Regions from separate parts of the Homo sapiens genome. Here region 2 is linked to region 1. The links come from fine-mapping of genetic effects on plasma protein levels. A gene starts in region 1. The other region holds a variant in brackets. All regions are shown on one strand. Distances are from middle to middle. Region 1 holds the start of CENPF (centromere protein F). Region 2 overlaps CENPF (centromere protein F).

What was found. PIP is the chance, under the fine-mapping model, that this variant and not a neighbour inherited with it causes the effect. Protein levels are from antibody-based Olink assays in UK Biobank. Linkage for the fine-mapping came from a reference panel and not from the study's own genotypes, which makes the PIPs less certain.
Region 2: its variant is fine-mapped to the plasma level of the CENPF protein (UK Biobank, PIP above 0.99). The variant lies in the coding sequence of CENPF. If it changes the protein, the assay may bind it differently, which can mimic a change of level.

What each region holds. Positions count from the first base shown.
Region 1 is chr1:214,600,909-214,606,288 of GRCh38, reverse strand. CENPF (centromere protein F) reads right to left here and starts at 3,094. Exons shown (of 20, transcript NM_016343.4): 1 at 2,968-3,094. It also overlaps the pseudogene ABHD17AP3. RefSeq lists a silencer at 2,991-3,200.
Region 2 is chr1:214,619,824-214,625,203 of GRCh38, reverse strand. CENPF (centromere protein F) reads right to left here. Exons shown (of 20, transcript NM_016343.4): 6 at 4,258-4,549; 7 at 2,923-3,125. Among named protein-coding and RNA genes, the nearest start is that of CENPF, 19 kb to the right of the region's middle. The variant A/G (reference allele first, on the strand shown) is at 3,026.

The DNA.
Region 1 (5,380 bases):
GGGGTGGGGCCGCTGGCTTCGCCCACCGCCGCGGTGTTGAGGGCTGGGGGTGGCCCTCGGGACTGGTGTGGAGCCTGGGCCTGACCCACTGACTTGGCTGAGTGGGGAGACTGGAGGGTCGCATCCGGAGCTGGGCCCGGGGACGCCCGCTGGCGGGAAGGGTGCGCGCGCGTCGGAGGCCGCGGCTGACCCTGCTCCGGCGCCTCCAGGTACGGCATCAGCCCGGACAGCATCATCCTGTACGGGCAGAGCATCGGCACGGTGCCCACCGTGGACCTGGCCTCGCGCTACGAGTGTGCCGCGGTGGTGCTGCATTCGCCGCTCACCTCGGGCATGCGCGTCGCCTTCCCCGACACCAAGAAGACCTACTGCTTCGACGCCTTCCCTAACATCGAGAAGGTGTCCAAGATCACGTCGCCCGTGCTCATCATCCACGGCACGGAGGACGAGGTGATCGACTTCTCGCACGGGCTGGCGCTCTACGAGCGCTGCCCCAAGGCGGTGGAGCCGCTGTGGGTGGAGGGCACCAGGCACAACGACATCGAGCTCTACAGCCAGTACCTGGAGGGCCTGCGTCGCTTCATCTCCCAGGAGCTGCCAGCCAGCTCGCCTAGCGGCGGCACCAACCGGCCAGACCTCAGCAATAAGGCAGCCCCCGGACCTCACCCCGCGCCGGCCCCCCAGGGGCTGCATGTGGACCCCCGGGCGGCCCAGGGGACCCCGCTCCAACCCAGGGGCTGTGGACGATGTACAGGCAACAGAGCTACGCACTCCTTTCCTTTTGGAAGCAAGAAGAAAATACGTGAAAACAGAAATTAAAGATTTAAAATTTAAAAAAAAAAAAAAACAAAGCGGATTCTTCTAGCTCAGGCACTTACGGATGTATGACCTTGGGCAAGTTATTTAGCTGCTCTATGCCTTGTTTCCCTTGTTTGTAAAATGAGGATAATAATGATGGTGACTTCCTAAGGCCTTAGAAACAGTAAGCTTTCCTGGTAAGCTTTCCATATATGTTAGCTATTACATACTTTTTAAAAACACTTTTTCACTTGTATATTTCAGCCTATGGTACAAAGGGTGAAGTGGCCTACCTCCTTCTCAGCCACATCTTAGGAAATAGAAATCAGCTGGAAGAAAATATAGCAACTTTCCTTTATTTTAGCCTTCAGAACATAAACAAAAAGAAAAATCATTCATTTTCCAGTTACTTAGGCAAGAGTTTGAGAATTTGTTTTTTTACTAAATAAAGTTAACGGCCATTTTAATGGTTTTTTTCAATCGATTTTATCAATGAAACTTTTTATCAAAACAATAAGCAGTTCATGAAAGTACTAAGAACAATAAAAAAAATTAAGAGGGAGAAGCAAAGGTCTTAGACAACATATAAGTTGGATATCAAAGCCCTGGAAAGCTGTGTTTTGCTACCAGTTTTGTTTTTTTTTCTAGCTCTCAGTTCTTGGAACACAGCATCTTGTATTCCACTCCCATTTATCCCAAAACTACTGAAAGGAGTCACATGCCTCTCAACCAACAAAGGACAACTGACCCTGTCTCAATATCCTCCATTCCAATCTAGTTTGTCAGGAGTCAAAGAACTGTACCCAGAGACACACAACTGTAATTGCCCTAAACAATTCAGCCAGCAACTGAAATCATTACATCAAGATGCTATAGCCAACAGAATATAAAAAGGAGCAATTTAGAAAGATGATTAGAAAATGAGGGGAATAAACATAAAGAAGACTGGCAAGCTGAATGCTTTTCCATTCCAAAGTCTAAGATAGAGAACAATATAGATGTAGACCAAGCTAACTGTGATTAGAGCAGATTTTGGCCCATTAAGGGATCAGCTATCAGCCACCTGTATTGGGCCATTGGGGCAAAAGAACAAAAAAATAAACCCAGAAGTTTACTTTTGAGGAACAGGGAATCGAGGTGGGGAGTGAAGAAAAGCCCTGGATGAAGGTTCCTGCATGGAGGACTTGCAGGACTATTGTCCTTTCCAGAAAATGCTGTATCTTTATCTCTTAAATACGTGGAGGGCACTCTTCATGCCCGAACTACCCAGTCCCTTAGTCCCCAAGGAAGCTCTTGTGTGACCTCCTCCTGCCCCACCTCCACCACTGCTTTCCCGTTGTCAGAATTCCCCACCTCCTCCAAAAAGCCAGAGTCCCCGTGCACTGTACCAAGGCTGGGTCTGAGAATGATAACCCTGCCTTCTCCTCTAGGTCAGGCTCAAGGACACGACCCATGCCTTTTATTTCTGGGTCCTCATTACACAGCCGAGCCGGGCACACAGGCGCGTTCAAATAAATGTGGAAGGGAGGACCGGGCGTAGTGGCTCATGCTTGTAATCCTGGCACTTACAGAGGCCAAGGCGGGAGGATCCCTTGAGCCCAGGGGTTCCAGACCAGCCTAGGCAATATAGGGAGGCCTATCTCTATTTAAAAAAAGAAAAAAAAAAATGTGGACGGGAGGAAGAAGAGAGGGGAAAGAGAAATGCTCGCGTAACTAACCATAGGCACCCCACGTCGCCAACCAGATCAAAACTCAAGCTTACATCTACTCAATAAAACAAAGGACCAGGGCCTGAATTTCAATAAGGTTGGTTACGGGACTGGGAAGGCGGCTTGGAAATACCTAGTCATCTCCAATTCTTTTACGGAGGAAGAAAATGATCCCCTAAAGTGTGAGTCCGTGACCGAGTAGGGTCTGGGACACTAATCCGAGACCAGTTTGAACCCGAGCAGAAGGGCGCAGACACCCCTACGAACCACATCCCGGGGCGGATTCTCCAGTTCGGTCGGGTGGGAGGGGGCGGTCCCCGGCACCTACAGGGCCGGGAGAGTGATCCCAGAGGCCTCCCCGCCCAGTACCCGCCGGCAAAAAGCCAGCGGCACCCCCACGCCGCCCGCCGCCTACCGCCCGCCGCCAGGGCCAGGATCCGGACCCAGTCAGGACGCTCACCTTGCTCTCGGGGACGGGAAAACGACCTCTCGGAGAGTACAGTTCTGGCGCGGCTTCGGCGGGCTGGAGCCCAGAGTCTAATTCAAACTGCCCGCAGCCGCCACCGGTGCCCAATTCGCCCGCTTCTGGTCTCAACCAAACTTACCTCCACGCCTATTGGTCACTCTAAGTAGCTGCGGACCAATCCGCGCCTGCGCACTCAGACTGCCGCGTCTGATTGGCCCTTTCGGATGGATTTTAAAAACAAGCCCTCTACTGGAGGTGCCTGCGCCGGAGTTTACTGTTCTTTTTTGTTGTTGCGGGGAGACGGAGACCACGTGCTTTTGCTAATGCTAGACGCGGTTTTGGACCGCTATTTCCGCAAAAGTCAGGGAATGCGCCCGCTGATTAGGAAGGCGTGGTCTATCGCCTACAGCCAGGGGAACTGTGCTGCCTGGTGAAACCTCTTTTAAACTGCACGTACCAATCTACTTAATTAAACGTAAATTTAGGACATAGATACTAGGTGCTGTGTTTGTCATGCATTCTTTATCCGGTGTCGTTCTTAACAATTCTTTGAGGAAAGTATTATCCTCATTTTATTAAAAAGTTAACAGGCTCATAGAAGCTAAGTACAGTAATTTGAAATTGAATCTACGCAATGCAGGATGTCGCTCTTAAATGCTGTCCTTTATGGTTCATATTTCTAAGACGTGATTCTGAACACTTATTTTCCGGGATTAAGGCGTGGGGGGAGGACACTGCATCAGAATTTAAAATTCAGAAGAATCCTCAAAACGGGGTGTAATGCTTTTCGTGAAGCCCACTAGTTTTCTATGTATGTTATATACTCGTTTTATTTCCCTATTAAACTATAAATAAGCTTCTAAAGGCAGAAGCAAAACAATTAATTGTTAAAGTAATAGATCTCTAATGCTGTTGTCTGCCTCAATAGGTACCAAACTTTCCAGCCCCCTGACTTTACCTTTCATTAGACTGTTCCTGCAGTACCCAATTCAAGTGTCACTTTTTTTATAAAACCTCCCTAATCCCACCCACTCCTTAGAGATAATTATTTCCTAGACCTTTCCTGGAACTTGCAAACTTCATGTTTAGGATTTTCGCCGTGTCTTGTCTTGTATTTATGTCTACGTCTGACTCCCCCATCAGACTCAAAAATTCCTTTACAGTAAAATCTGTTTTAATTCATTTTTGCATCCCTAGTAACTTTGCACATAGTAATTTAAAATCCAGATCATCTTGGGAGATAAAACTGCTATTTGGGGAAAGGCCTTGTTCTTACTATCTTCTACCTTCGAATCCCCAAAGGGAGGGGAGAGAGCAGGTAGGGGAGGAAAACTTTTGTCAGACATTGCCATGATCAGTCTAGTGTCTGGTAGTTTTAGAATTTGAACCAAATTGTGTCTGGCTTCAACACAAATTACAATTCCATTGCTTCCCAGAGTAATTATTCAACTATGTATAGGCTGTTTAAGGAAAAATAAACAGCTAGAAAGACAGATAATAGAGGATATTTTTAAGGTTTGAATAAGAAATTTGCATTTACTATTCATTCATTCGTTCTTCAGCAGATATCTATTGAGTGGCCACTGTATAGTCAAGCCTTGTGCTTCGTTTTTCTACAATGAACAATAAAGAAATACATTCATTTCTTGAACAAGGGAAATAGGATGGATACCATTCTAGTAACTCCTGTGATATTTCTCTGACTTTAATTTTATGCTTCCCTTCCCCTCCCTTTATTTTTCCCCCGGTTGGTTTGTTTGTTTTGTAGGGGGAGGATCCCGTCCAACCAAAGACAGATGTTCTCTAAGGGTCCATTTTTGGCTCTCTGCTCTTCTCTTTTTAAGTCCTTTCCCTCAGTTAGCCAGTCTACTCTCTCTGGATTGTTCATCCACTACCTCGATATTCTGCTTGTGGACCAGTGTCTTTGAGTCTTCCCATCTTTTCTACAGATTAGACTGCAGGTTCATCACTGAAATCACTCTTTTGCCAGTGTCCTCAACTCCCTTGCCTCTTGTTCTATCTCCCAAACTTGTATGTGTGCAAATGTCCATATCATCCCTTGGTGCACTATTGCTGCAGAATGGGGCTGGAAAAAAATCCCAGCACTGTGCAAATACTTTAAATGTAGGATGTCTAGCTGGGCCTCAATGCTGCTCCACAGCCCTTTCTCCCAGTTTCAGGATTTCTCTAATCCGCTGCAACAACCATCTCCATTCTTACTCTCAGAAGATGACTTTATTTTCTAGTTCACAGAAAACATAAGATTTCTGACAGGAACACCTTCAACTTTCTGAGACCCAAATCTACAAATGTGTGAAAATCTATACCCATTCTTACCTCCTTTCTTCCTGTTACAACCATGGGAAATGTCTTTCTGACTACTCCTAAAACTGAACAATCATACTGT
Region 2 (5,380 bases), 19 kb before region 1:
ATTGAAAAACATGGCCCAATTATATGTTGTCTACACGAAAGTCGCCTCAATATAACAAAATAGGTTGAAAGTAAAGAGGAAGAAATACATCATGCTAACAATCAAAGGAAAGCTGGAGTGGCTATATTAATAACAGACAAAGTAGACTTCAGAATAAAGAAAATTACCATGGACACTAAATAGTGATAAAAGGGTCAATCCACCAAGACACAGCAATCCCAAATGTATATGCCTTCACCAACAGAGCTGCAAAATATGTGAAGCAAAAACTGGAAGAAATCAAAGGAGAAACAGACAAATCACAGTTATAGGTGGGGACTCCAACATTCTCTCTCAACAATGAATTGAACAACTAAACAGAAAATCAGCAAGTATATTAACAAACTCAACAACATCATCAACCAACAGGTCCTAATGACATTTTTTTGAGCAATATAAACCTAAAGCAAGCAGCAATCAATGAAATTGAAAACAGAGAAAAAAAAAAATCAATGAACCAATGGGCTGATTATTTAGAAAGATTAGTAAAGATCAACAAAACTGACAAATCTCTAGCAAGACTGACACAGAGATAGAGAGAAGACACAAATTACCAACATCAGAAATGAACAAGGAATATCACTACAAATATCAAAAGAATAAGAGAATGCAGTGAATAACTCTATATACATAAAGTTGACAACTTAGATGAAAATACAAACTATCCTAATTCCCCCAATATGAAATGGATAATTTTAATAGTTCTATAACTATTTTAAAAATTGAATTTGTAATTTTAAAACTCCCAGAAAAGAAATCTCCAGATTCAAATGATTTCACTAGAGAATTCTACTTAATATATAAAGAAAGAAAAAAAAATTCTACACAGTCTCTTTCAGACAACTGAAGAGGAAGGAATACTCTCTAATTTGTGAAACTAGGATACCCTGATACAAATATCAAACAAAGATGGCAGGGGAAAAAAAGAAAGCCAACCAATATCCTTTATGAATACAGACACAAAAAATCCTTAATAAGTCATTAGCAAAAAAAAATTCAGAAATATATTTTTTAAATTATACACTGTAAGAAATTAGGGTTTATTCCAAATATGCAAGGCTCATTCAAATGTGTGAAAATCAATCAGTGCAACCCACCACATTAACAAGCTATTATTTTGTACAACTGCATATGAATCTACGATTATCTTAAAATAAAAGTTTTAAGTAAACAAATGAAAGAACCTGCCCCAAGAAAGCAAATAATAGAAGTATGTCTACTACAATGGTTTTTACCTAAAGCCTCAGAAATATCTAAAGAGTTTATTAAAAGTCAAATAATTCATTTTTCTCTACAATACTTATTACCATATACCATACTATCTATGTTACTTTATTTTTGTTATTTTCTGCCTCCCTCTATTAAGATGAAGCTCCACAAAGCAATGATTTTTGTTGGTTTATCACTGTTCCAGCCCCAGGTCTGGAGATTTTTGTCTATTTATCACTGTTCCAGCCCCAGGTCTGGAACAGTGCCTAATATATAGCAGGCACAAATATCAATACATGCTTGTGAAATGAGTCAGTAAATGAATGAGTAATAGAAAAAAGAGAAGAAAAGCCTGGCTAGAGAGGTAGGCTGGGACCAAAGCAACAACAAGAACAACAACAACAACAACAAAATAACAGGCTAAGAAGCTTGGCCTCCGTTGGAGTCTTAAGAAGATTCAGTGGTGGGTGTACAGTCATCCCTCAGTATCCATGAAGGACTGGTTCCAGGACTCCTTGCAGATACCAAAATCTGAGGATGATCAAGTCCCTGATATAAAATGGTATAGTGTTTGCACATAACCTATGCACATCCTCCCACACACTTTAAATCATCTCTAGATTACTTATAATACCTAATACTATGTATATGCTATGTAAAATATTTGTAATAATGTATTTGTTTAGGAAATAATGACAAGGAAAAAAAGGTCTGTATATGATCAGTACAGACAAAGCCATTCTTTGAGACAGAATCTCACCCTGTCACCCAAGCTGGAGTGCAGTGGCACAATCTCTGCTCACTGCAACCTTTGCCTTCCAGGTTTAAACAATTCTTGTGCCTCAGACTCCCGAGTAGCTGGGATTACAGGTGTGCACCACCACACCTGGCTAATTTTTGTACCTGTAGTAGAGACAAGGTTTTGTCATGTGGGCTAGCTGGTCTTGATCTCCTAGCCTCAAGTGATCCGCGTGTCTCAACCTCCCAAAGTGTGGGGATTCGGGTGTAAACCACAGGTGCCCGGCCTTTTTCTTTTTCCCCCTAAATACTTACGATCCATAGTTGGTTGAATCCATGAATGCAGAACTCATGGGTACAATGGACCAACTATATATACGATCTTTTTTCCCCCTAAATACTTACGATCCATAGTTGGTTGAATCCATGAATGCAGAACTCATGGGTACAATGGACCAACTATATATACGATCTTTTTTCCCCCTAAATACTTACGATCCATAGTTGGTTGAATCCATGAATGCAGAACTCATGGGTACAATGGACCAACTATATATACGATCCCAAGAGCAGATTAATTAAATCCTATCAAATGTCCTAAAACTCCTTTAAAGTGCCATTAAGTGCCTATTTTAATGTGGCACACATCATGCTAGATGCTATATATACATTTTCTTTATTCTCTATTACCCCCTGCAACATAAAAGAGATCAGTGACTTGCCCAACGTCACTCAGCTGGGAAAGTACGGCACCAGGCTTGATCCCGGATCTGCCCAACTTAAAACAGCTTTCTAGTTCAGTTGCATCAAGAGTACCTAATATATATTAACAAAGAACATTACTGACATTTCATAAACTTATGTATAAAATACTCTTTCTAAATAATTGTATGAAAAGATGAAGATTTCTCCAGTAATTCACGAAAAGTCAAGTACCTTGGTTGACGCCTGGTCGTATTGTGCTGTTGTTCTCACTAGTTCATCCCTACATTTGTTCAAAACTTTCTCTTTTTCAATTAATTCCACTTTTGCTTTCTCC[A/G]GTTGGAGTTGGAGTTCTTGAAACTTATTCACTTGGCCTTTCATTTCTTTTTCATGTCCTTGCAGGCGTAGTTCCAACTCATTAATCTTGTTTCTTAGCTCTTGAACCACAAACAAAAATCACACTCCAATTCATATATATCTTTCCCAAAATGTTCATAACTTATCATTTGTTTTATTCTTTTCTGAAATCTTTGACGAAACAAATATTTACACTAAATACAGAAGCTACTTTAATTGGATTTAATTTCAATAGTTAGTTTCTATTGTCATTTGCATTCAAATACTCTATAGAAAGCAGGAGAAACAGATTTTCTTACATTTTAACAAAGAAACTTGGTGGGGGGAATGCTTTTCTAAAATCAGGAACGCTATCTTCTTATTGAGACTGTGAAAAGTACATCACATATGACACCCTTTGTTAAAATTACCATTTAGTTTTACACAACAGCAAACTATATTTGTTTTTTGCCCATATCAATGCAAATCAGTGCTAAGCAGTGAAAAGTTCACCCTCCTATATTCTCTGGTAGTTTTACCTCCAGTAAACATCAAGACAGTGTGAACCTCCCATACTGCCAAAATTAACAATGATTTTTTTTCCACTTTTTTCCCACATACGCACAACATTGGTTCCAATGGCATTGGCTAGGTGACAGCTCTCACCAGTGAACACTGACAGTGATTTTCAATATATCACAGCACTGGAAATTATCATCTTCTACAGAGTAGATTCCAAAACACCACCTGGTACCCTTGGCTGTCAGCTGCAGCGTGGCACAGCAGCCAAGGTTACAGGTTTGCTCCCATATGGACAACCTGGCAGGGCACAGCAAAGCTGTTCTGCAGACACACACACAACCTCTGGCCAAAGCTGGTCAGACCACAGCCTGGTTCTGTGGGTCACAAAAGGAGCCAGATGAGAAGCATGGGGAGTGTAAACTGTAACCAACCCACTCGCCCTGCATCTGGAAAGATAAATCAAAGCCTCTCAACGTACTTTAGAGGCTTCCAGGCACCAGCTTTTCAATACAAATAAAACTACATTCCAACACTATGATGCCTTTTATCATTATTGAAAAGACAGTATATTTCACATAACCAGTCTAGGATGTTGAACACCGATGTGCCTAACAAAACACATAAGCACTTTATGGGATTAAAAATATCTGAAATCACCTGTGAAATTACCTCAAGCAAAGTGAATTTAAACTTAACTTAGCTCAATGTTACCTTGATTCTGCGCTTTTAATTGATCCAAAAGATGAGGACTGCTAGAATTGTCAAAGAAACTGCTATTAGCATCTCTTTTCCCTATTTGCAAAGTTGATCGACTTGGAGTCACCTCTTGTTCCCCAGAAAAGTAAGATGCAGAGAAATCTCTCCTAATTGGAGTTCTTTGAGAATTAGATGAAAGATGACTTGGGGTCTTCTCTTGCTGCCATGAGAACACAGATGATGAAGCCTGATGCCGGGCAATGTCGCGGTGATTCATGGTGGCTTGTGGAAGAGTCTGGCTTGCTTTCTGTAGAAACAGAATCTCTTTAGAGGCCTTTAAAGATCTTATATACTCAAGGCTATTTATTTTCAGATAGAATATAAAGCCATAATCCCAAGAAGTTAACAGTTGCACTGCATACCAACAAAGAACATTCATCAAGTCAAGTAAACCATAAGTCTAATACCCAGTGATGGAATGTTCTAATGCTCGACTTCTTAGCATTGAAGGAATAAGCTACTACCATCTCATGCCCAATCTATTCAAAATAGGCTAAGTCTTAGTATTTATTCTGCATCCTTCTTAGAACCCATTAAACATATGTGAGTATTCACTTTCATTCTGAATTCCAAAACTGGCTTTTCTTTGCCTGTCCTTGGTTACCTCCCCCTATAGCTTTGCCCAAGAGAATCAAAGTTAAACATCACACTAAAGAACTCTTTCAAAAATCTCACATTCCACCATATCACTATCCCAAAAAAAGTCACATCGAGTGTTTAATAGTATATAATATACATTTGTGGATGATCTACCGCTTTGCATTGTTCTTTCTATGCTTCTCTCTGCCTCCATTCTGACAAATATCAAGACATGGAGGTGAATGCAGCATTAGATTTTTACAGCAAGCACTTTTTTTTGCCATAGGAAGAGGGTTAATGTTTACTAGAGACTCAAATTTTCCATAAAACATCTCTAGGAATCAATGTCAAGAGAAGAATTGATACAAATGACTGAACTGGATGACAAAGCACATGATATTTCTAGGACAAACTAGAGAATGAGTACTTAATTTTTATTCATCTTGATAAGCAATGCCTTTGCTACATATCAGAATCCTAATGACATCAAAATGAGGGT